Linked DNA regions of Homo sapiens: regions 2, 3, 4 and 5 are each linked to region 1. The links come from fine-mapping of genetic effects on gene expression. A gene starts in region 1. Each other region holds a variant in brackets. All regions are shown on one strand. Distances are from middle to middle.

Evidence for each region.
Region 2: its variant is fine-mapped to the expression of ARL6IP5 in sun-exposed skin (GTEx, PIP above 0.99).
Region 3: its variant is fine-mapped to the expression of ARL6IP5 in whole blood (TOPMed, PIP above 0.99).
Region 4: its variant is fine-mapped to the expression of ARL6IP5 in minor salivary gland (GTEx, PIP 0.94).
Region 5: its variant is fine-mapped to the expression of ARL6IP5 in blood mononuclear cells (TOPMed, PIP above 0.99). The same link has a PIP of 0.9 or more in T cells, monocytes and whole blood.

The regions. Positions count from the first base shown.
Region 1 is chr3:69,082,949-69,088,052 of GRCh38, forward strand. It overlaps ARL6IP5 (ARF like GTPase 6 interacting protein 5), which reads left to right and starts at 1,989. Exons shown (of 3, transcript NM_006407.4): 1 at 1,989-2,275. The coding sequence starts at 2,100. RefSeq lists enhancers at 1-152, 1,760-2,069.
Region 2 is chr3:69,011,131-69,016,234 of GRCh38, forward strand. EOGT (EGF domain specific O-linked N-acetylglucosamine transferase) reads right to left here and starts at 2,554. Exons shown (of 18, transcript NM_001278689.2): 1 at 2,444-2,554; 2 at 1,385-1,669; 3 at 806-861. EOGT-DT (EOGT divergent transcript) reads left to right here and starts at 1,990. Exons shown (of 1, transcript NR_185971.1): 1 at 1,990-5,104. RefSeq lists silencers at 1,872-2,421, 2,482-2,781. The variant G/A (reference allele first, on the strand shown) is at 2,315.
Region 3 is chr3:69,103,587-69,108,690 of GRCh38, forward strand. It overlaps ARL6IP5 (ARF like GTPase 6 interacting protein 5), which reads left to right. Exons shown (of 3, transcript NM_006407.4): 3 at 878-2,506. The coding sequence ends at 1,050. LMOD3 (leiomodin 3) reads right to left here. Exons shown (of 3, transcript NM_198271.5): 3 at 2,479-5,104. Among named protein-coding and RNA genes, the nearest start is that of LMOD3, 16 kb to the right of the region's middle. RefSeq lists an enhancer at 234-1,433. The variant C/T (reference allele first, on the strand shown) is at 2,536.
Region 4 is chr3:68,871,934-68,877,037 of GRCh38, forward strand. The region is part of intron 3 of TAFA4 (TAFA chemokine like family member 4); the gene reads right to left. Among named protein-coding and RNA genes, the nearest start is that of TAFA4, 58 kb to the right of the region's middle. The variant GAAA/G (reference allele first, on the strand shown) is at 2,157.
Region 5 is chr3:69,175,487-69,180,590 of GRCh38, forward strand. It overlaps FRMD4B (FERM domain containing 4B), which reads right to left. Exons shown (of 23, transcript NM_015123.3): 22 at 1,038-1,170. Among named protein-coding and RNA genes, the nearest start is that of LMOD3, 55 kb to the left of the region's middle. The variant C/CT (reference allele first, on the strand shown) is at 2,832.

The sequences.
Region 1 (5,104 bases):
GGAGTTCCCACTCTCATCTTGACCAAGATGATTTACTCAGCTTGCCCACAGTGCTGCCTCTTGACATTCTGAAGCCCTGGGGAATTCCTCCACACCCTCTGACTTCCTGTAACTGAGCACTGAGGCTCAGTGCATCTCTATTTAGCACTCCTCTTACTGTCTCATATTTAACTAGTGTTTCCACTGGATTGCAGAAGTTTTGAAGGCAGAGCAGGATTACATTTTTCTCCTCTTTAAAAAAAAAAAGAAAAGAAAAGAAAAAAAACCCACAGTGCTTTCACAGAGCCTCAAAAGAACTCGAAATACTTGCTGGCATTGTACTGAATATTCTCAACCTTTTCCCCCTACCCAGATACATCCACAACAATAAAGTTGGAGCAAGGTAGAGAAAAGTTAGTAGATGTTTATAATGAAAGCATAGAAAACAAATCAGATTAAAGCACTATTAATAGCAAACAAGAATCGTGGGCTATCCTATTGCTAATAACAATAATAGTAACATATAACTGTGAACCTTTATTATACACTAAGCATTTCCTATACATTCCTTCACTTAGCCTCGTCTATATGGCAGATGTTCCATTATCCCCACTTTACACATGAAGACACCGAGGCTGGGAGAGATTAAGTAGTTTCTCCAAAGTCACCTGCCAGAGAGGAAGGAGCTGCGACTCTAATTTTGCTTTCTCTGACTTCACACCATCCCATTTTTCCAGAATCAAGAAAACATGAGCACTCAGGAATATTTTCACATTTTAAACTTTATTCAAAAAGCAGCACATAAGATATATCTTAGCACTAATTCCATGCAATCACCAAATTTTCCTAAACAACAGTAGTAGTAGTAATTTCTTAGAGTCGCTGTAAGCTCCTTAACTGTCTTCTGAATTAATAAGGAAAATTAAATTATGTTTTCTAGACTTTGCATTAGTATATTTCATTACTTTCCAAGTTTTCAAAAATTGGTGATCTGAGTAGAGTGAATTCACCTTGTCTAAGCCACTTAGGGGCTTAGAGACTCTGTTATCTTAGAAATCTTCACCTTAGAATTCTACCTATTACATTATACAATTAAACAAACTACTTTTTTTCTCATGCATTGTACCAATCAGCCCCTTAACTGAAAAAAGATGACCCTTGGAAGCTTAGAAGAGAATTGACAACGAATACTTCTTTTGCCAGGTCTTTGGGCTGGGATACAAAACATCACGTTATCTATGAATATATTGTGGTCCCTCAGTGAAAGCTGTCACCAAATATTGCAATAAAACTAAGAAAACTTTTGAAGTGGAATGCATATTTCTGCCCAGAAAATGCTGGATGCAGAACAACTAGTTCACTGCAGACAACTGTTTGCTTTAAAATGTAAGCAACATGCCCAGCTCAGGACTGAAGTGGCCAGAGTGCCTACTTTATCAGAATGGCATAGCAGTCCAACAATTTAGCCTAGAGAGAACAGAGGTGGAGAACAAAGAAGAGAAGTGAAAAAAACAGACCAGCCCTTCTGTTCTACATGACCTTCTTTCCCGTTTTGCCAATCTGATTTCACACATAGTGACTCATGGTGAAACAGAGAAAACATGGGAATTGCATTCAGATGTGTAGAGGTTAGTAAGACTTAGTTTTCAAAAGCAGCTCATTCTCCATTAACACTGTAGTCGCCTTCCATTTCATTTCACTTAGATTGGCATCTGCACAGCTGCCAAAATTTTTCTCTAAGTCAGAGAACACACTCCTAGGTAAACCTTCAAAAAAGGTATTTCGAAGGAGGCAGCTTCTCTGCTGCTAGAGAAGGCATTGCCACCTCCCTTCAGACAGGGGATTTCCGCTAGTTGCTTTCTGTCATTTCGTCTCTATTCTGCACTCAGTCCCTTGTTCTGTCTGGAGGTTCCTGTTTTCCTGTACCCAACCAAGAGCCAATGAAGAAGTAAAGAGGAGCAAACACGCCCGCCCACTCCCAATTTCCTTTGCTCTGCTGTCTGCCAACCGCAAAGCCGACCGAGACGGAGCCGCTGTCAACTCTCCAACTCAGCTCAGCTGATCGGTTGCCGCCGCCGCCGCCGCCAGATTCTGGAGGCGAAGAACGCAAAGCTGAGAACATGGACGTTAATATCGCCCCACTCCGCGCCTGGGACGATTTCTTCCCGGGTTCCGATCGCTTTGCCCGGCCGGACTTCAGGGACATTTCCAAATGGAACAACCGCGTAGTGAGCAACCTGCTCTATTACCAGACCAACTACCTGGTGGTGGCTGCCATGATGATTTCCATTGTGGGGTAAGTGGGGTCCCCCTACCCGGGACACCGATCCGGGGCGAGCACGGAGGGGCCTCGGGGTGCAAGATCCCGGGATGTAGAGACGCTCTCTGACCACGCTCAGCGCCTGCCCTGGCAATTCTGCAAGCGGCCAAGCCAGTGGAAACTTGTTTGCAGGGCGAGGCCGCAGTAACCTGGGGCCCCATTTTCTGCACCAAGGGCTGAGACTTGAGGGGGGCCCTAGGGGAAAGAGGACGGGGAAAATTTGCCAGCCGCAGGGAAGAAAAATGAGAGTTCCCCCACCCCCCTGCCCCCGCCCGCGTGCCAGGATCGGGCTCTTGCTGGAAAGATATTTGTAGCGCCCTCGTCTTTTAAAAATAAGAAGAAAAAGGAAAGTGGTGTAACCCTACCCTGGAGCTGGCTGGGGCGGCAGGGTGTGGACCCGGGCTAGTGTAAAAAGGGCAACCAAGTGGCGACGCACTTTGCTGCTTTCTCTGCCTAATGCCTGCCACACTGTACAGTAAAGCTGAGCTTGGGATCAAAAGGGGGGGTGTCTCCTGGTGGCGCATCTCCCATTGTGGGGTAAAGGCTGCCATGACTGTGGGAAGATGGCCTTCTGGCATTTTCTTCCAGCAGTGGCCAGGCGTGGTCACTTTCTCTGTCTTCGCTTCCTAGCCTGAGGTTTCAATGTATCAGAAGGCCTTTTCAATACCTGATACTTAACAAAGTATCCTGTGTTGAGACTGCATGTACACCTGCTTTCCTAGAAACCACCTTTCCTTCTAGTTCACCCTTTAAGAAATGCTTCTCTCGCTTATGCAGGATGGGTGGTGATATTCTCAATCTTGCTGATTATCTCCTACACATCTTTAAAGAAAAAGCCACCCTCAGACTTTATAAAGGACTCACTTGCACTTAAATGTCTGACATTTCTATTTCAGGGCAGACGTAGAGGGAAGAAGCAGCAAGCTGGCTTGGGAGAAAAGGGAGAAATTTGCACTTGAAGGGTGTGGGAAAGGGTGAACAGGGTGGCTTCTTCAGTTGGCTCGCAGTTAATTGGCTTATACATTGAGCCACCTCTCTGTGCCTGGCCCCATGCCAAGCTCCAAGCACACCAAGATGAATCAGACTTGAATTCTGGCCCAGGGGCTCCTGGCAGTTGTTGAGAAGCTAAAGGAGCAAACACACAGCACAGAGGAGAGGGGGAGACTTCACAGTTTCCGAGTATGGTTCACAGCAATCACCCCCATGCAGAGGTGGAAGCCCACATGTGGGACTCTATACACAATCGCACAGATCCTTCTTCTGCATTGCTTAAGGAATTCTTAAGGAATTGCATTCTGGGAATGGCTTGGTGTATAGAGGGCACAGGCTCTGAGTGGACTCGGAACTAGTGTGGCAGCCAAGGTACAAGTTAGTCAGGGCAGGGTGGGGCAGGCCCAAGGCCTGAGGCAGCTGCCTTCTGAACCTTCCCTCAGCTCTGTGCTTCAGGCTGCTTTCCTGGAACACTAAAAAATTTCTTTTTTTTTTTTTTTTTTGAGACTGAGCCTCGTTCTGTCGCCCAGGCTGGAGTGCAGTGGCGTGATCTCGTCTCACTACAACCTTTGCCTCCCGGATTCAAGTAATTCTCGTGCCTCAGCCTCCAGAGTAGCTGGGATTACAGGCACGTACCACCATGCCTAGCTAATTTTTGTATTTTTAGTAGAGACAAGGTTTCACCATGTTGGCCAGGTGATCTGCCCGCCTCAGCCTCCCAAAGTGCTGGGATTACAGGCGTGAGCCTCTGTGCCTGGCCAAAAATTTCTTTTTAAAAATTTTTATTATTTATTTACTTTTGAGACAAGGTCTTGTTCTGTTGCCCAGGCTGGAGTGCAGTATTGTGATCACAGCTCACTACAGCCTCAACCTCCTGGGCTCAAGCAATCCACCTACCTCAGTCTCCCAAGTGACTGGGACCCCAGGTGCGTGCCACAAAGCCTGGCTAATTTTTTTTAGAGATGGGGTCTCACTATGTTGCCCAGGCTGGTCTTGACTTCTGGGCTCAAGCCATCCTTCCACCTTGGCTCCCAAAGCACTGAGATTGCAGGCGGGGGCTACTGTGCCTGGCCAAAAAAGTCTTTAAAACAAAATAAGTAGTAAATAGGTTTGCATCAATTTTTGTTTTTTTCTTTCTCTTTGCAAAGAAGCAGGAGGGCATCTTATCTGGTGATCTAGTTATGGAGGTATTTTCTTGAGGTAACTTAGATGTGGGGCAAAGTTTGACACAGACCAATAATTAAAAAAAAAAAAAAGTCTATTTTCTTCAGACATGTGTGCTGCCCAGACCAGGCACAAGCTCAGACAGCCTTGCTGCTTTTGATAGAATCCATTTTTCACTGTGAAGGCCAGGGGCCAGCCCTTTGACTAAATATAGCTCCGTCAGTATTGTGCCTTAGGCCACTAACTCAGGTAGTTTAGGGGTGTTGGCCCTCCTCATTTTCCTTTCAAATAAGAGTTGTTGGTTGTCAATGAAAATTTTGAAGTGAAAAAGTGAAAAGTAGCCATGAAGTTTTTAAAACTTATCCTTATTTTTAAAAACTTACAAAAGATACAGGCTAGTAGTAAAGGTTGATTTGAAAATTATGTGGATAAAATGTGAAATTTCCTTCATACTTCAGTAAAAGTTTGGTATATAACCCCTAACTGTTTTCTATGCAACTATAAGCACAGTCAGTAGTTTTTTCCACCAGTTGTTCTCTTTTCTTTCTTTATCATTTAATAATATAAATATTTATTGAGTGCTCTGTGTGTCAGGTACCTTGCAAAGTATTTTACCTGCATTATGTCATAGAACCCAATTTTAAAAAACTG
Region 2 (5,104 bases), 72 kb before region 1:
TCTCCTATATATCCCAGACAATGATCCTGCCATTCTCAGGTCACTTTAGTGGGATCTTTGTTCTTTTTTTTTTTTTAAGTGCTCTTTCCACTGGATGACAGAGTCTTAATACACACTGGATGTTCATCAGCTAGGACTGCTGTTTCCTGGGTCATACCGGAAAACCCAACTTTCGAAATCAGTCTTCATTGATTATGGGCTGTGAAGATGGAACCTTTAGAAACAGACTGCAGGCCTGTAATAGTAGCACTTTGGGAGGCCAAGACTGGCAGATTGCTTGAGTCCCTGAGTTCGAGACCAGCTTGGGCAACGTGATGAAACCCGGTCTCTGCTAAGAATACAAAAAATCAGCTGTAGTCCCAGCTGAAGTGGGAGGATCACTTTAGCCTGGGAAGTCAAGGATGCAGTGAGTCGTGATCTCGCCACTGCACTCCAGCCTGGGTAATGCGAGGGAGACTCTGTCTCAAAAAAAAAAAAAAACAAAGAAAGAAAGAAGAAAAGGAAATTGACTGCTATGTTCCATCAAACCTCAAGTTCCAAGGCCATGGAATTCTAAGTGAACAGTGGGGACACCAAAAAGGAATCCTTTTTCCCCCATTTTCCCCCCTTGGAGTAGTTAAGTATTGTGGTTTTTCACTTTGGCGGCCCTCAAGAGTATGGTGTTATCTGCTGTAAATCTGATCTGAATTACAATAACATTTTCACTTGGAGCTTTTATCCAAGAATGAGTTGACAGCAGTTTTATAAAAATTTAAAAACACATATTAATAGTAACAATGACTCTACTTGTAATAAAAATATATACCTCTTGAATCTTCAGAACCACTCAGAAGCTTCTGTGATGTTTCAGGTCTCTAAAACCTGTCAGAAATGAAACATATTACCTTAAAAGGATGCTAAAGTAAACCTGATCATTCAGATGATGTTGTGAATTAAAGGAAATATTAAGAAAGAAAATAATGTAACGTGATAACTCTCAGCCAGAAGGCCTGGCCGGTGGTGCGCTTTCTTTTCCTTAATGAATACCACACTGCTATACTCGAGTTCACAGGCACCACCCCCAACACAGCAACTCGGACCAGATTCCAATGGGGAACGGGAGGAGGTGGCCCACTTTCTACAGGCATCCACTGGAACTGGCCAACAGGATACTTAGTGGATCAAACATTCCCAGAAGCAAACAACTTTCCCATTCTCACAGCAGTAATCCCACTGGCTGAATCACAGGGCTACCCACCTAGAGTGGCGAGCCTGAGGGTTCCCAGGCCTTCCTATTTTTTGACTCGTCCTTCCCGGTAATAAAGTCATTGTTATGACCAAGCCCTGACCTTTGGTTATCCAAGTCCATTGTCCTCCAGTGAGCTCTGGCCATCACTAAACTCACCGATCAGTGGAGAAGTAACGCTTAGGCGATGGAAAAAATCTAAAGACGCAGATCAGAAAGCTGGCGTCTGGCGAGGGCATGTACCCACTTGCATAAGGCGGCTGGGGGTGGCTGCTGGGCCTGGCACAAAGCCTTCCTGGTGTCGGTCGTCCTGCAAGGCCCGCCGGGATGGGTGGCTGCACTCCTCCAGCACACGGACGCTTTACTGGCCAGGCTACTTTTCCTTCAGCTCAAAGCAGCTGGAATCACTCCACTCCAGAAACCCTTGATTCGATTTCCACAGGCCTAATGAGGAAGGAAAAAAGGGAAACATCTGAAAGATGATGGATAGGAGGCAAAACCTGGGGTTGACACAGCGGGCGAAATGGGGCAATGTCGCAGAGAGAGAGAGCTTGGAAAAGTTTAAAGACGGCAGTGGGCAAATGGAAAGTTCAACACGTGAGACCCCGAATGACACCTCAACGGCTGGCCCCTACTTGTGCCAAAAAGTCTCTCGGCGGGTGCCAGGCAGGGCTCAGGAAGTGCTCGGCTGCCCCTTGAACGTCAGTCCCGGCAGAGCCCAGCTGTCCGCTTGAACGTCAGTCCCGGCCAAGGGCTGAGGGGTCAGTGGCGAGCACCCCGCCGCGGCTGAGACGCCGCGCTGGGGTTCCGGACCCCGGGCGCCGCCAGGGATTGCTTCGGGGTCGGTGATCTCCCGGGGCCGCCCGCCACCGTGCACCGCGGCGCCCCGGGTCCCCAGCGCGCCTGGGAGGGGCCCCGGGGAGCGGCTCCGCCCCGGCTGGAAACCTGGTCAACGCGGCTAGGGCCCGGGGCCCGCCTGCGCTCCGGGCGCTGGGAAGGGGCCGGGCGCCCGGGGCCGGGGAGGGCCAGGATCGGCTTCCGACGCCCGCCTCCCGGCCCGCAGGGAATGGGAAGGCGCGGGCGGAGTGC[G/A]TGCGTAGGCTATAGCCCTCCGGGAAGCCGCGCCGGGAGCGGCTACCACCCGGGCAAGAACAGCGCAGAGCGCTGCGGCGGCGGGAAGGAGAGCGGGGGAAGGCTCCGCAGATTGCGGGGGAGTCCCACCTGGAGCCGGGGCAGCCGTGAACTACCGAGGAGGAGGCGGAGGAGACGGCGGCTGTTCCAGAGGAGGGAGTCGTCATAACCGGCTACTGCCGCTCACCGGAAACCTCGGGCGCGGGAGCTGGGCCAGGGGGCGCCAAGGAGCAGCTGGGACACCTTGGCCAGCCGGCGCCGTGGGCGGGCTCGGGCCCCGCAGAGGCAGGACCGGGACTACACCCAGGAGGGCCAGGGCGCGGGGCCCGACGCTCGGAGCGGCTTCAGCCCGGCGAGCGGCCTCGACCCGGCGAGCGCAGCAGGGAGGGGCTCAGAGTCGAGGAACCATCTGCCCTTCCTGGCGTTCTCCCGCGAACGTTCGCGCGAGTCCGCCAGCTCCCTCACCAGGGCCGGAAAGACCGACGGCACGTGCCGGCGCCGGACGCCCATCTCCATCGCAGCAGCCCGCGCCTCCTTGAGCGAGAGCGTTAAAGCGCTCAGAGGATGTTAGGACGGGGTGGGTAGAAAACCTGACTCTTCGTGTCTTCTGCGTTGCACTGAGGTGGATTTTTACTTTTGTCTTATTTCAAGCAGAAGTTGCCGCCCTAACTTCCAAATTTGGGGACTGAACATCGTTCACCGAATACACTTTGTGATGGTGAGGATACTTTGGAGTCCACACACATTTTAAAAGCAGTATAGTTTTACCTATCCGTAAACTCATCAAGTTCAAATGCTACTCTGTGGAGTTTAATTTTTATGGTTTTGTTAATTTACTTTATTACTGCTTATAATTATTTGAACTCCCATCCCCCACTGTCTTTTCCTCTAAGCTCCCCCAGGCCTAGTATTCCATCTACAGCACAGTAGAGTTGATCATTAAATAGTGACTAAAGTTGAACTGATTATATGAAGGTGATGACTTCAAAATAAACATGCTCAAATGAATATAGTCACCAGAAGTTAAATAATATGATCATAAGGAAACAAGTTTGTTTCCAAAGGCTTACATGCTTTTTACGTAATTTTTAAAAGTAATGTTGTTTAAGAATTGTTACAAGTTCCATTAGTGACCTGCTAAATTAGGAATCTTACCTGGAATTTTTTTCAAATAATAACAGCAAGAACATGTGGTGTTTAACATGTGCCAAACATTGTTTTAAAGCACTTTACAGTATTAATTTATTCTTTTTATTGAAAAGATTTTGCCTCTAAGGGAACTGTCAAGAGGCATGTGAACCGGAGCAACTCCATCTTAAATAGGAGCTGAGTAAAATGAGGCTGAAACCTACTGGGCTGCATTCCCAGGCCGTTAAAGCATTCTAAGTCGCAGAATGAGATAGGAAGTCGGCACAAGATACAGGTCATAAAGACCTTGTTGATAAAACAGGTTGCAGTAAATAAGCCGGCTAAATCCCACCAAAACCAAGATGGCCATGAAAGAGACCTCTGGTAGTCCTTACTACTATACTCCTATCAGCGCCATGACAGTTTACGAATGCCATGGCAATGTCAGGAAGTTACCCTATATGGTCTTAAAAGGGGAGGCATGAATAATCCACCTGTTTAGCATATCATCAAGAAATAACCATAAAAATGGGCAACCAGCAGCACTCAGGGCTGCTTTGTCTATGGAGTAGCCATTCTTTTCTTCCTTTACTTTCTTTTTTTTTTTCCTTTACTTTCTTAACAAACTTGCTTACACTTTGCCCTGAATTCTTTCTTGCTCGAGATCCAAGAACCCTCTCTTGGGGTCTGGATTGGGACCCCTTTCCTATAACAGAATTACTGCTCTATTATTTTATACTTTGCATACTTCACCATCCCACACTAATGACAGTAATTTTTTAAAATGCTTCCTCAAGCCAGGCACTGTGGCTCATGCCAGTAGTCCCAGCTACTCAGGATGATCGCTTGAGCCCAGTGAGGTTGAGGCTGCAGTGAGCCATGATTGAGACACTGCACTCTAGCCTGGGCCACAGTGAGACCCTGTCTCATAAAAAAAAAAAAAAAAAGCTTCCTCAGCCTACTTGCTACCATCCTATTTTTGTCACATACAAAAAGGTTAAAATCAGTATGACATGTGCATGGTACTATTTTATTTTATTTTTTTTGTAGAAACAGGTTCTTGCTATGTTCCCAGCACTTGTTTCCAACTCCGGGCCTCAAGTGATCTTCCAGCCTCGGCCTCCTAAAGTGCTGGGTTTACAGTTGTGAGCCACCACGCCTGGCTATGTGGTGCTATTTTAAACACCTACATATTGAATGGTCATTCAGACTTACAGGAAACCAGATATGATAAACCTGAACATGAGATTGAGTCTCTCTTACTGTAACAGCCATTCTCAAATAGAATTTCTCTCCAAAATACCAATGTTAGAATTTAAATTTTCTTTGAGCTGACATAAAACTCAAGTGTCTACCAATAGAAGGCTGGTTGAATAAACTATGGTTTATCCATACAATGTAAAACTATGCATGCATAAAAAGGAATTGAGAAATATCTCTGTACACTACAGAATATTGAGTGGGAAAAGGATATGTAATATGTAAATATCATTTTTCTAAGAGGAATATGTGTGTATACATGTGTATACACATATATATTTACTAATTATTATTTTACAAGTAGATTAACATTTAAAATGACTATATGGGCAAGGAGGGAAGAGGAGGGGTATAAGGAACAAA
Region 3 (5,104 bases), 21 kb after region 1:
GAATCCACATCAGGGTTTTTCAAAATAAGGGTCCAAGATCCACCTACATCAGAATCATCTGGAGTGATTATTAAAATAATGAATTCTGGAGCCTTCCCTCAGTTGTAACAGTCTGAATTTGGGGTGATGGAGACCAGGAATTTGCCTATTTAACAGGCTCTCCAGGTGATTTGAATGTACATGGAAGTTGTAAAACCACTGGTATAGATCATATGGAGAGAGGGTTACCTGTTTAAAATACAGATTCCCAGGCCTGTCTCTTTAAGGCTCAGGTGGAGGAGGTCCAGGAAAGGGGATAGGGAATCTGTGGTAAAATAATCAAGCAAGTTTGGGGAACGGTAGGCTATAGAAACTCTGTAAAGCCCTTAGATTTTTACATCTAGAATTCTATACCCAACACTTTGGGTAAAGCCTCCGGGAGGCACTTTAAAAGTGGACTTTACTCACGTGCTCCTGCAGGGAACAAGATACAGATAATCCCGAATCGAGCAAGAGTTCTTTTCTGGAAAGCCTCGGGTAAGTTGATTTTTAAGTAGGATGGAATCCCGTTGATTCACTCTGAATTTCAGGACATTTAAGTAGCATCTGCAAGGTGATGATATCAGTGTGTGAAGGAAAGGGTGTGGCTTCCAGATAATGGTCCTTCCTGTTGAATACAGCATTTTCCTTTAATGCAGAAAAAAAACTATGTATGACTTGATGGAGAGCTTTACATAAAGTCCAAGGAGCCATTTGAAAGCTTGCATCAATTCGAGAAGCAGACTGGACTGTGGCTAACTAAGGCAGTTTACTAATAGTGTGAAGAGAGGGAGTGTAATATTGATATGGCAAAAGAGAATTGTTGCTTTGGTGTTAACCAGGTGTCCCTTCTCTGCAGTGATGTTTATCCATGCATCGTTGAGACTTCGGAACCTCAAGAACAAACTGGAGAATAAAATGGAAGGAATAGGTTTGAAGAGGACACCGATGGGCATTGTCCTGGATGCCCTAGAACAGCAGGAAGAAGGCATCAACAGACTCACTGACTATATCAGCAAAGTGAAGGAATAAACATAACTTACCTGAGCTAGGGTTGCAGCAGAAATTGAGTTGCAGCTTGCCCTTGTCCAGACCTATGTTCTGCTTGCGTTTTTGAAACAGGAGGTGCACGTACCACCCAATTATCTATGGCAGCATGCATGTATAGGCCGAACTATTATCAGCTCTGATGTTTCAGAGAGAAGACCTCAGAAACCGAAAGAAAACCACCACCCTCCTATTGTGTCTGAAGTTTCACGTGTGTTTATGAAATCTAATGGGAAATGGATCACACGATTTCTTTAAGGGAATTAAAAAAAATAAAAGAATTACGGCTTTTACAGCAACAATACGATTATCTTATAGGAAAAAAAAAATCATTGTAAAGTATCAAGACAATACGAGTAAATGAAAAGGCTGTTAAAGTAGATGACATCATGTGTTAGCCTGTTCCTAATCCCCTAGAATTGTAATGTGTGGGATATAAATTAGTTTTTATTATTCTCTTAAAAATCAAAGATGATCTCTATCACTTTGCCACCTGTTTGATGTGCAGTGGAAACTGGTTAAGCCAGTTGTTCATACTTCCTTTACAAATATAAAGATAGCTGTTTAGGATATTTTGTTACATTTTTGTAAATTTTTGAAATGCTAGTAATGTGTTTTCACCAGCAAGTATTTGTTGCAAACTTAATGTCATTTTCCTTAAGATGGTTACAGCTATGTAACCTGTATTATTCTGGACGGACTTATTAAAATACAAACAGACAAAAAATAAAACAAAACTTGAGTTCTATTTACCTTGCACATTTTTTGTTGTTACAGTGAAAAAAATGGTCCAAGAAAATGTTTGCCATTTTTGCATTGTTTCGTTTTTAACTGGAACATTTAGAAAGAAGGAAATGAATGTGCATTTTATTAATTCCTTAGGGGCACAAGGAGGACAATAATAGCTGATCTTTTGAAATTTGAAAAACGTCTTTAGATGACCAAGCAAAAAGACTTTAAAAAATGGTAATGAAAATGGAATGCAGCTACTGCAGCTAATAAAAAATTTTAGATAGCAATTGTTACAACCATATGCCTTTATAGCTAGACATTAGAATTATGATAGCATGAGTTTATACATTCTATTATTTTTCCTCCCTTTCTCATGTTTTTATAAATAGGTAATAAAAAATGTTTTGCCTGCCAATTGAATGATTTCGTAGCTGAAGTAGAAACATTTAGGTTTCTGTAGCATTAAATTGTGAAGACAACTGGAGTGGTACTTACTGAAGAAACTCTCTGTATGTCCTAGAATAAGAAGCAATGATGTGCTGCTTCTGATTTTTCTTGCATTTTAAATTCTCAGCCAACCTACAGCCATGATCTTTAGCACAGTGATATCACCATGACTTCACAGACATGGTCTAGAATCTGTACCCTTACCCACATATGAAGAATAAAATTGATTAAAGGTTTTTTTGGTGAGACTTTATTTAATGCACATCTGTCTTAAATACCTGAGAAACTTGG[C/T]GACGACCCTATAAACAGTGAAGCAAACACTTCAGCTGTTTCAAATACTGTTTAGTAAAGCTTGAATACTTTATTAACTTGCAGCCAGAATAAAACAATTCCAGTGGGATCCTATTTTTAAACCTGGCACGAGTTTTATATACATGTTAGCCCAGTTTTATATACATGTTAGCCCATTCCATTTTCTACAAGGTGAATTCTGCCGATAAAATCCAATAAATTTGGAGAAACTAATAAAAAAAAAGATACCTGTAATTACTAATGGCCAGTAGTCAATTCTGGAAGGGTAATAACAGAAAAATGTAACATATAAATGTTGTAAATTATGATTACATTTAAAAACAAGCTAAAATCTGCAACTAAGATCTTTAGGGTTGGGTGGTAGAAAAAGCATAATGTGAACTGCTTCACCTCTTTTGGCAAAACCTGTGTATTGAGGCCATAAGCTATGAAATTGGATCATCTTTTCTTCTTGTATATCTAAGATAAAAACCCTCTTACTGTGCATTTTGAAATTCCTGACTTTAATAATACTGTGGCTATACAAACAAATGCATAGGGGCTTTCTAGAATTTTTTTTTTTTTTTTGAGATGAGGTTTCGCTCTTGTTGCCCAGGCTGGAGTGCAATGGTGCAATCTCAGCTCACTGCAACCTCCACCTCCCATGTTCAGGTGATTCTCCTGCCTCCCAAGTAGCTGGGATTACAGGCATGAGCTACCATGCCTGGCTAATTTTGTATTTTTTTTTTTTTTTTTTTTTTTTTTTAGTAGAAATGGGGTTTCACCATGTTGGTCAGGCTGGTCTTGAACTCCTGACCTCATGTGATTCACCCACCTCGGCCGCCTACAGTGCTGGGATTACAGGCATGAGCCACCGCACCGGCCTAGAATTTCAACTACTAATTTACATTAAGCTTTTAATTATGTTTAAAGTGCTTTTCCTATCAGAGTTTAGCCTCTTAGATGTAGTATGTGCTAGACACTTGAAGTTTTGTTTGTTACAGCCCTTTCTTAGCTATCCTGCTTTGTATGCAAGGATGTTTTCTAGAAATATTGAAGGGTGAGAAAACAAAACTATCAGCCATTGAAAACTATATTTAAATTTGGATACTTTTGTACATACTAAATTATCTTAAAAAAATAGAAACGCCATATTTCTTTCCCATGGCTTGTCTTTCCAAATAATGTGTTGTTTTTAAGTCTGTCACAATTAGACCTATTCTCCCCTAGCCTGTTTGGTTTGATACATGCCACTTATGATAACATAAAAGGAGAAAGAAGGCAGGTGCCAATTATTTACTCAGGTAAAGAAGAGAGAAAAGGCACCAAAGGTTTTTTTTTTTTTTTTTTTTTTTTTTTTTTTTTTTTTTTTTGAGATGGAGTATCACTCTGTCACCCAGGCTGGAGTACAGTGACGTGATCTTGTCTCACTGCAACCTCTGCCTCCCCAGTTCAAGCAATTCTCCTGCCTCAGCCTCCCGAGTAGCTGGGATTACAGGTGCCTGCCATCATGCCCAGCTAATTTTTGTATTTTTAATAGAGACGGGGTTTCACCATGTTGGCCAGGCTGGTCTCGAACTCCTGACCTCTGGAGATCCTCCCTCCCTGGCCTCCCATAGTGCTGGGATTACAGGCATGAGCCACCGCACCTGGCCCAAAGCTTGATTTTCTAATTTCTAGGGTTCACACTACTTCTATTATTACAAAAATCTCAAATTCTATGCACCTAGTGGCTAGAATGAATAATTAAGGCCTCTAGGAACTTGGAAGAAGGACAGATTGGAGTTGTCTGGAAAATTTTTTATGGAGGACACAGGATCTGACCCGGGAGTTGAAGACTGGGTAGGACGTTCATTAATGGAGAACAGGAGGGAAGTCTCTTGGAAGGATTAATGCGAGCAAAGGCACAAGGGTGTGCACAAGGATGTTTCATCGAGTAGAGTATAAAGGATTTGTGGGAAATAAGACAGGATTAGTAAATTGGGGCCAGGCAATGGAGTGCCTTAAAGAATAGGATAAGTAGTTCAAGTTTAATCCTTCCTGTAAGCAAGTTTCCTTTAAAATATGTTTGAGAGTGATAAAATCAAATTAGACTTACAGAGTAAACACATATGAGCGTGTGTGTGTGTGTGTGTATTTAGCCAAAACCAAAAGCTTGTCAATAACTATATTATGTAAAACTTCTTTTCTATAAAAACAGCATGCTGTCTCCCATTGTCCCTCTATATATGAAAACTTGCTGCCAGGAAGTTTTCATATATGCAGGGTTTACTTTCCCATTACTTTTCCTAGTGACACTTAGTTTTCACCATGTTCTGTGGCTTACGTGTTCTGCCCCTCACAGGTACCCCTATAGAAAGAATACTCCAAAACACCAAGGGAGTCACCAAGAGAGAAAGCCAGGCAGGGTGGGAAACTGAAAATCTCCACTGATTCTGCAGAGAAGCTCTAAGGAACAATCCTTCCATTTCAAAGCATCAGAAGGGCCAGGAGCTCAATTCATCCTTCACATTTCCATAGGATGAAACATTATTTGTTCCCTTTAAGATACTATGTGATGAATTACCGC
Region 4 (5,104 bases), 210 kb before region 1:
CACTCATACATCATTGGGGGAATGTAGATTAGTACAGCCACTGTGGAAAACAATACAGTGGTCCTTCAAAAACTAAAACTAAAAGGACCAAATGATCCAGCAATCCCATTGCTGGATATCTATCCAGAAGAAAGGAAACCAGAATATCAAGGAGATAACTATACTCCCATGTTTATTGCAGCCATATTTACAGCAGCCAAGATATGGGAACAACGTAAGTGTCCATCACTGGATGAATGGATAAAGCAAATGTGGTACATATATATATATAATGGAATATTATTCAGTCATAAAAAAGAATAAAATCCTGTCATTTGCAGCAATACGGATGTAACTGAAGGTCATTATGTTAACTGAAATAAGCCAGGCACAGAATAAATACTGCATGCTCTCATTCATATGTGAGAGCTTAGAAAAGTAGATTTCATACTGGTAGAAAGTTGATTGGTGGTTACCAGGGGCTAGGAAGGGTTGGGAGGAGGGAGAGATGAACAGAGGTTAATAGTTTAAAAAAATGCAGTTAGAGAGAAGAAATATGAGGTAGTGTTCAATAGTATGGTACGGTAACTATAGTTAACAATAATTTAGTTTTAGTTCAAAATAGCTAGAGAAGAGGAATCACAATATTCCCAACATAAAGAAAGGGTGAATGTTTGGGGTGATCGATGTTGCAACTGTCCTGGTTTGATCATTACACATTGTATATATGTATCAAAATATCACATGTACCCCAAAGATATGCACAACTATTATGTAGCAATAATAAATAAGAAAATGCATTAAATTCCAGACATAATACCAAGCTCTTTAGATAAATTGTCTCATTTCATGTCACAAAAATACTTTTAGGTAGGGGATGTTGTAATACTCACTTCCAGGAAGAAGAAACTGAGGCTCAGAGAGATTAAATAACTTTGCCCAGGGTCACATAGGTAGGACTTTGCAGAGAGAAGGCACAAGCATTTTGACTTCATGTTAAATAAATGCTTCCAAAGCACTTGACGATTTTTTAAGATAACGTGAACAGCTCCTTGGTAAATATATTTACACCATTTATTTGCTTAGCAAATCCCTTTTCATAGACAGCATGGGTAAATATCAGCCGTATCATCTCAAGGCTGATCTTTCATCACACATTCCATTACAAATTCTAAAATTAGTAGGGTTCAAACTTAGGTCTCAGTGACTTATAGAAACAATCCAGGTTCTGATGTGTCACACACCTATGAGGCATGCATCAGGCTCATTAGAAAACAAATTCCAGATCAGTACAACATAAGGTAGGAGAGGCTAACAACCTTGCTCTCACCTGGAGAGATCAAACAACGTCATACTTGTTTTCCAGGAGAAGACAAATAGAAACAGACACAGACACACACACAACAGACAGACACACGCAGACATACACACACACACACACACACACACACACACACACACACACCCTGGGCCAGAAAAATGCTGACCTAGCCATTCTGTGAATGTTTCCAATTTCTAGATGGTATCCTGAAAGCAACTAACTAGACAAGTAATTCATATTAATAGCTGCTCTCTCCCTTTCAATTTGGGTATTATTTCCTATTGGATATGTTTAGCCGGCAACAGCTCAAACATATAGACTATGCATAGTTAGAAATCACTGTCCTCCACGGGGCAACACTTACTTGAAAAGCCTGTAAAATGACCACAGGACACTTGCAGGGAGGGCAGAAAACAGCAACATGTTCACATGTTCATTTCTCTAGCTCAAATCCAACCAGCCTTTGAAAGTGCCACTTGAAAGACAAGCCTCCCACTATTTCTTGCAAATGCTTTCTAAACAACAAATAAGACTTTCCAGAGCAAAGGAGACTTTTCCAAAATCTGTAACTGTTTGACTTTGGGGAAGAAGACACACCTCTTGACTCCTTTATGCACAACCAAGTTCGGATTGCTGAAATCTCCCACACCCTTGGATGGCTGGTATTTATTCCCAGCCCTTTCCCAGGTAGCTGTGCAATGTCAGTGATGAGCTACTGAAAAATTGCCTGCTGCTAACAACACTGTTGCTATTCACTTCTTTCATTTCATGCCTATATTATATTTTTCCTGAAACAAATTTCTCTATTGTTCCCTCTCTGCTTCTAGGATCCCATTACCCAATCCCCAACAGCTAA[GAAA/G]AAAACAGAGCCCAGTTGGAGACACCCAACAATCTCAGGCCCTTCTAACCCTGTCGGACTTAGTTATAGTTCTTATCTGATTTCAGACATACCCTAAAATATAAGCATTGATGGTACTTGGCCTTAGTAGTCAAATTGTTTTTAACTCTTGCAAACACAGTCTTCTCACAATCAATCCTTTGTAATGGGTTTTTAAATGTCCCTTCAAAAATATTATTTCCAGTGTTCTATTCTGAGACTACCATATGGACCAAAATATTTAAAGCATCCAAGCAACACCTAGGAAAATACAAAACGTCATTTTTCTTCCTGCCCCGTCTCTACCCCTGCTGTTTCTTTTTACCAATGATTTTATTTTCCTTATAGGGAACAAATGATTCCAATTTCCTCGTATAGCACTGGCATACAGATGAGGTATTGACCTGTAGCTTTTTAAACCCCAAATTGTAGGCTTTGTTTAGATGAGTCTAAGGCCGTGGCTTGAAAGAAGAAAAAGGGAAATTTCTTCTCAAGGGTAAGGAGAATCTTTTCCCAAACTACCCGAGGAACTCTTCAAAGACAGTTGCCTGTTCTGCCCTAAAGACTCAAAGAGGGAAGGGTGAAAAAGCCTACTCTGCCAAGTAGGATGGCTCACAAGCTCATTTGAGGAACTGAAATTCTTTACTCCCGTCAGTAATACAACCCTTTCTTTACACACACACACACACACACACACAAAGGATGTAAAGCATGCTCATTTGTCAGACATTTCACAAAGCTGAACTTGCCAGTGGCACTGGGACTTGAACTTGCAGCTGAGGAGGTGAGAAGAAGCCAAATATGAACACTGCATATAATGTGTTCCTTTCCCTTCTTATTAAAAGCTGAGCCCATCAAGATGGCACTGAAGAAATATAATATGGGGTACAACGGAGGCTAGTGGAATCCCTCACCATGGAAGCTTTTAGCATTCAAAAAGCTGAGCTGGTACAAAATGAGTAAGTATTTTCACAGTCCTTCCCAAGAGGTGGAAATGGAGGTCACCTTGACAGGGTGACAACTCTCCTCAGCCTAACTATGTCATAGCAAGACTGAAATGGAGACATCACCACCCACATCAAACTGTACCTTGATAGGAGCTAGAGTCAAACTTCCAGTTTTTTTTTTTTTTTAACTTCTGAATCATTTGTTCTCATCTTTGGCTGCAGGTCTGAGTAATCAATAGTACGGTTGTTAAATAATACAGGTGCCTGCACTCTACTTTGTAAGGTTCAGATGGAATCTCGCTGCAGTGGGCCCTCTGTGTTTTTCGTGCAAAAGCTCCCCAGGGAGAGAATAAAGTAACCACTATCTTATGGATGCCTTTTTCCATTGCTACCAAAACATAGGACCTTTAAACCATTCCACAGTCTTTTCTTTTTCTTGCTCATAAAATAGTGTATGCTATTGTGGAGTTGCCTGCATAGCAATACATCCATAGATTTACTGAAATAACCATTCACTGGAAGTGGGACAGGAAGAAGGAAGATAGAGAAAAGTACAGGAGAAACCATATTAAAATGGTATCATCAGGTTTCACTTACCCCAGTGGGTAAGTGCTCATTATTGATCAAAATAAGTTTGCTAGTGGGTAACTTTAAGACTTAATGGTTGATATCACATGCATAAACACACACACACTGTCAAATTACTTTTGCCACTTCCCTCTCCCTAAAAATATGCTCTTGCAGAGAATAACAGCATAAGCTATTCATCAGGAAACAGAACTCTTCCCCATTCTTTATTACTTGAGGTTACGAATCCCACTTACCTGGTACTTTTTCTAAATTTAGTAGTCATTTGTTTTAAAAAAAAAAAAGAGAGAGAGAACTAAATAACTAAATAAAACATAAAAGAAATTAAGTGAAATAAAGAGAGATAAAACAATGTGCTCTATGACTGACCCATGAAAATTAAAATAACCCATAATTCCAATCTTTAAAAAAGCAACATTAAGACCTAACTCATTATTAGTTCATGGGACTTATCATAGTAGGCTCTAACCACATGTGACTATTGAGCACTTGAAACGTGGCTAGGGTCACATGTTAAAATGATAATATTTTGAATATATTGGGTTAAATAAAATGTGTTAGTGAAATTAATTTCCTCTGTTGCCTTTTACTTTTTTCAGCGCAGCTTTATAACATGCAAAATTACATGTGGCTCTATTTAGCTATGATAAGCCTTGCCTACCCCCTAGTGTCAGAACTTAGGCAATGCAGGCAAATCATTTTTCAAACGCATCTGTGTTAAGTACAATTCATTTCTGCCGGCAAAGTACAAGTATAGCCGCCTGTACATACAATTTTATCATTTTCACAAATGTTATCTCAAATTTAAGCCTCAGAGAGACTCCTGTAGTAGATGTTATATTCCCCACTCAGTTAGTATTTTTGAAATTACCAGGTTTATTGTAGAAAATTAGAACTAAAACAGCGTATGCTATTTAGTCAAGAGTATTTGCAGGGTTCCTATAAATTTCAGCCATCATAGGGGACAGAAAACATGGGATCAAACTTGGATGCAACAACTGCTCTTCAAAAAATTTACCCTAAGTTAAAAATAACATAAACCACCAAAACACACAATCACAACATGCATATTTTGCATAATCATTTATAACAGAAAAAAAAACAGAAAACCTAAATTTCCATAAATTTGAACAGTACAGAACCTCTACAAAACAGATAACATTCAAAAGAAGAAGACAGCTCTAAATAAGGATAACTAGCATTTGAGCACTCACTAAGCAAACACAGTTCTCAGCATTTCCCAGGTATTAATTGATTCCTTATTATAACCGTGAGACTTATTTTTTATTATTTTTATTATTCTCATTTTACATAGAAAGAGGCTGAGTCCCGAAGAGGTTTCATAACTTGCCCAAGAATGAAAGAAGAACTGAAGCAAAACTGAAGCTCATG
Region 5 (5,104 bases), 93 kb after region 1:
TGTGTCTGTTGCTTCATAACAAACATAGGATCAGATAAAAAACGCAGCAAATGTTTGAAATCCAGCCTACCAACTGTCTAAGGAACCTTGGTATGAACAGCCTTTCCTGGAGTAGAGAGATTTTTCCTGCAAGGTTTCAAAAGAGACTTAAATGGACATATCACTAATAGGATTTCAAGTACCATAATTTAAAAAATAAAAGCTTCAGACTCAGAATTCAATGTACAGACTAAAGAACAGAATGCGTTAGATGAGGGGTTAGCAAACTTTTTCTTTTCTTCTCTTTTTTTTTTTTTTTTTTTTTTTGAGACGGAGATGGAGTCTCGCTCTGTCGCCCAGGCTGGAGTGCAGTGGCGCGATCTGGGCTCACTGCAAGCTCTGCCTCTGGGGTTCACGCCATTCTCCTGCTTCAGCCTCCCGAGTAGCTGGGACTACAAGCGCCCGCCACCATGCCCAACTAATTTTTTGTATTTTTAGTAGAGATGGGGTTTCACCGTGTTAGCCAGGATGGTCTCGATCTCCTGACCTCATGATCCGCCCGCCTCGGCCTCCCAAAGTGCTGGCATTATAGGCATGAGCCACCGTGCCCGGCAGCAAACTTTTTCTTAAAGGCCAGATATTTTTGGCTTTGGTGTCTGTGCAAGTAGTTCTTTGTAAACATTAGAGGAAATATACAAGAATTCAATGTAATACTGAAGACCAGGGTCAAATCTGAATGAGTTAGATTAGGGGTTAGCAAACTTTTTCTTAAAGGCCAGATACTTTTTGGCTGATGGTGGCCAGATATTTTTGGCTTTGGTGCAACTACTCAGCTCTGCCCTCATAGTGCAAAAACAGCCATAGAGAACATGTAAGTGAATGAGGGTGGCTATTCTCCAATGAAACTTTATTTACCAAAACAGATGGCAGCTGGAGTTGGCCCACAGGCTAGAGTTTGCCAACCCCTGAACTAGATTATCTGACGTTTGTAAATTAGGATCCCTGAATTCTTTTGAACTGGAACAGGCTCCTAGGATTTTCGAGCATTGCTTCCTCACCTGCTTGGAGAGGGTAAAGGATTATAGACATTGCCATAGCAGCTGGTGTAAGAAGAATGTGCTGGAGTCTCGTAATCCGACAGCCCTATGGTTAACTGGGTCCTCCAGTTCCCAGAAGCATTTGTAGAAGACACTGGAAATAAAAATGGAAAAAGATAAAATTAATGGAAATATTAAAAGTGAAAAATTGTTAAGGTCATTCAGAGGTACATTGCAATCAGCTTTGTCAGAGGAGAAATTTAAGAGGGTTTGAAATAACAGAGTTCCTATTCCAATTTAGTGACTTCCTGGCTATGTGACCTTAGGCAAGTAGTTTATCCTCTTTAAGCCTCAGTTTCCTCATCTATAGAGTAGGGATAATAATATTAATATATTCTGTATAGGTATGATGCCAGGATTAAATAAGGTAATTATGAAAATCTTTAGCACTGTACTTGATACAAAGTACTCAGTAAATAACTATTAATATTATTATTGAGAATAAGATTAATTGAAAGATAAATTTGTCAATTCAAAAAATAATCTAGGTTGGGGCCAGGTGTGGTGGCTCATGCCTGTAATCCAAGCACTTTGGGAAGCCGAGGCGGGAGGACCACTTGAAGCTAAGAGTTCAAGACCAGCCTGGCCAACATGGTGAAACCCTGTCTCTACCAAAAAATACAAAAATTAGCTGGGCATGGTGGCGCATGCCTATAATCCCAGCCACTCAGGAGGCTGAGACAGGAGAAATACTTGAGCCCATGAAGTTTAAGTTGCAGTGAACCAACATCACACCACTGCACTCCAGCCTTGGTGACAGAGTGAGGCTCTGTCTCAAAATAAATAAATAAATAAAAATAATTTCAGGTCAGCTCAGTGGCACAAGCCTGTAATCCCAACACTTTGGGAAGTCAAGGTGGGAGTAACGCTTGAGCCCAGGAGTTCAAGGCTAGCCTCAGCAACATGGCAAAACCCCATCTCTGCAAAAAATACAAAAATTAGCCTGGCATGGTGGTGCACACCTGTAGTCCCAGCAACTTGGGAAGCTGAGGTGGGAGGATCACTCAAGCCTTGGAAGTCAAGGCTACAGTGAGCCATGTTTGCACCACTGCACTACAGCCTGGGCCACCAAGTGAGATCCTATCCCAAGAAAGAAAATAATAATAACACATAAATAATTTTTAAAATAACTGAAAAGACAAGCAAGAAAACAATTCTCATATATTGCGAGAATCTTCCCATTCACGCTATGGTGTTATAAAGGTAAGGTGATGAGTCTGGGTTTGTCAGAGGCCTTGGAGGAAATGTGTTCCATAAGTTGACTTATTGAGACTTGACTATTCCTCAGCCAAAGACAACACTGGCCGCTAGCAAGATCAAGGCTATTTTTTGTCTTAAAAAAAAGTGTGTATGTGTTGGGGTGTGGATTGGGGGAAGAGGCGAGGTGGTAAGTAGCACAGGAAGGAATTCAGGAAGAAGGGATTTAGTTCTACAGAGGAACTGAACTGGAACAAGACAAGGACATAATTTGGGAGCGAAGCCCAACAAATGCCTCATCACTGGGCGTTTGTTGTCCTCTCTATAAAACCAGTTCTGCTCCACGCCTAGGATGGACAAGATAACCACACGCCATGATACTCGTTCAAGACTCAAAAACCAGCACTGCCCTTTTTCCATTTCCTGTTTCTGGCTTCAGACCTACTCCTCTTCTCTCTCATACACACAAAGTGCCTGTGATCACTATGGGACAAACGCATTTCAAAACTCATCTGTGGCCCTGGATGTCATGAGGTGTTGACTAACAGATGTAACACT[C/CT]TGAGTTTGAGCTTCCAAGCCATTTCCAAACTGAAATCAGAGGCTCTAAGCCTTGGTGGTTAAGATGTTAGAGCTGTGGGGCTGGGTGTGATGGCTCATGGTTGTAATCCCAGCACTTTGGGAGGCTGAGGTGGGAAGATCACTTGCAGCTAGGGCTTAGAGGCCAGCCTGGGAAACAGAGCCCAGTCTCTACAAAAAAATAAAATTAGCCAGGCATGGTGGTGTGTACTTGTAGTCCTAGCTACTTGGGAGGCTGAGGAGGGAGGATCGCGTTGAGCCAAGGAGTTTGAGACTGAGTGAGGTATAATAGTATCACTGCACTCCAATGTGGGTGACAGACTGAGACTGTCTCTTTAAAAAAGAAAAAAAAAAAAAAAAGGAGCTGAGCTAGGACAGAATCCCCAGAATCCCCATCCCACCACTTAGTAGCTTTGGAACTTGGGTTATTTAAACTCTGTAGCCAGAGTTGCCTAAGCTGCAAAATTAGGATGATAACAATAAGCATAACAATAGCAATCACTATATAGAACTGTTGCATACATTAAATAGGAGAGTGCATGTAATGTTCTGAATGTGCATGGCATCTAGTAAGCTGCCAACAAATGGTAGTTGTCATTACTAAAACTGAGTCACCGAGAGATCCTTCAGGTGGCTGGAAGGGACTACAATGCCAGGACTAATCTGGCAAATAACTGGAAATTTATCACTCCATGAGAATGACGCCTGCCTGTTGTAATACATTTCTGCAGTTTTAAAGTGGAGACAGAAATGAGGGGAATTCCAGCAGGGAATTCTGGGAGTACTGATTCCACCCCTGTAGTTCTTTAAAGAGTGATGCCTTTTGGTCTGTGGGGCCACATCTTGCTGGTGTCAGCAAGGCTCACACCAGGTCTGAAACAGGAAGCTTTACCTCCATTTCACCTTTACTAAGCTAGCAGCCAGGAATGTTGAGTTTCCTCAGTTAACACCTGCTTCCCCCAGGCACCACCCCAGCCCTGTGCCGTAGTGACCATCCACATGCATCTCAGCCCTCCTTGTTTGGTCTTTCCCTTGTAGTACTCTGTCTGTTCTGCCCAGGTTTGACCTGTGAAAGTTTCTCACATCTTGAACTTTAAGAGGAAGAAAGGTGTTTTCTAGGTCAGAGCCATAAATAAGAAATAATTACCGAAGCCCTTTCATATGTTAGATGTGGTAATAGATGGGACAGCCCTAGTGGAAGTCCAAAGTCCTGCACAAATAGGAGAGAACTTGAACCCAAATAGAAATCTCCATGGAAACGCCTCATCAACAAGTACATGAAACTTTTAAAGGTGTAGTTTTCACTTGACTATTATACAATGACTCAGGAATCCTTATACTATGTCTCACTAAGGTGTCATGTTAATAAGGGAGAAGGTGAGACTCATGACCTACAGGTTTTCTGGCAGTTTGAGAATTCATTCATTTCTTAGCGTTTTAAAATTGCTTAATTTTTAAACATTCCTCTGGCTGCTGACTCTGAGCTCATCGTGGCCAGGAACTAGTTCAACAATGGGTCCTCCACATCTTGAATGTGGCTGCTCATTTGCTGAATAAATAAAACCATACACAGAGCCTCCCCTATCTTCTATTTCTCTACTTAAAGTACCTAGTACAACTGGGAGTAGGCAGGAAGTCCTCCACAAATGTTAGCAGAGTTAGGGGCCAAAGTCAACATCAAGAGTATAAAGGAAACATCTCTAATCAAAATTATCTTTGAAAATCCCTTAAGTCAACCACAACATAGGTATATATGAATACTGAATTACAATATGCATGGCCAGGCACTGCGGCTCTCACATGTAATCCCAACACTTTGGGAGGCCAAGGCAGGAGGGTTGCTTGAGGCCAGGAGTTTGAGACCAGCCTGGGCAACATAGCAAGACCCAACCTAAGCCTCCTTGTTTCTACAAAAAAAAAAAAAAAAAAAAAAAAGCAAATTACTTAGAACAGTGCTTAATCAATGCCAGCTCCTATAAGGATTCTTACGAGCCTTATGCAGGCACTTGCCTAAGTACCTGCATAATCCCAGGCTTGCATTCAAAGCAGTCCTTAGATGATCAATCTTGGTGGTGAACCAGGAGGGATGTATAATTCTAATGTTTTCTGCTTACCTGAGGGTTTATTCTTTTAAAATATCAAGCCTCAATGACGTGAACACATTTAAGAGATGTGCCTGTCAACGTAAATCCTAAAAAGACAAAGCAAGTGAAACCCCTAACACATCCCAGCCTAGGCGACAGAGTGAGACTCCT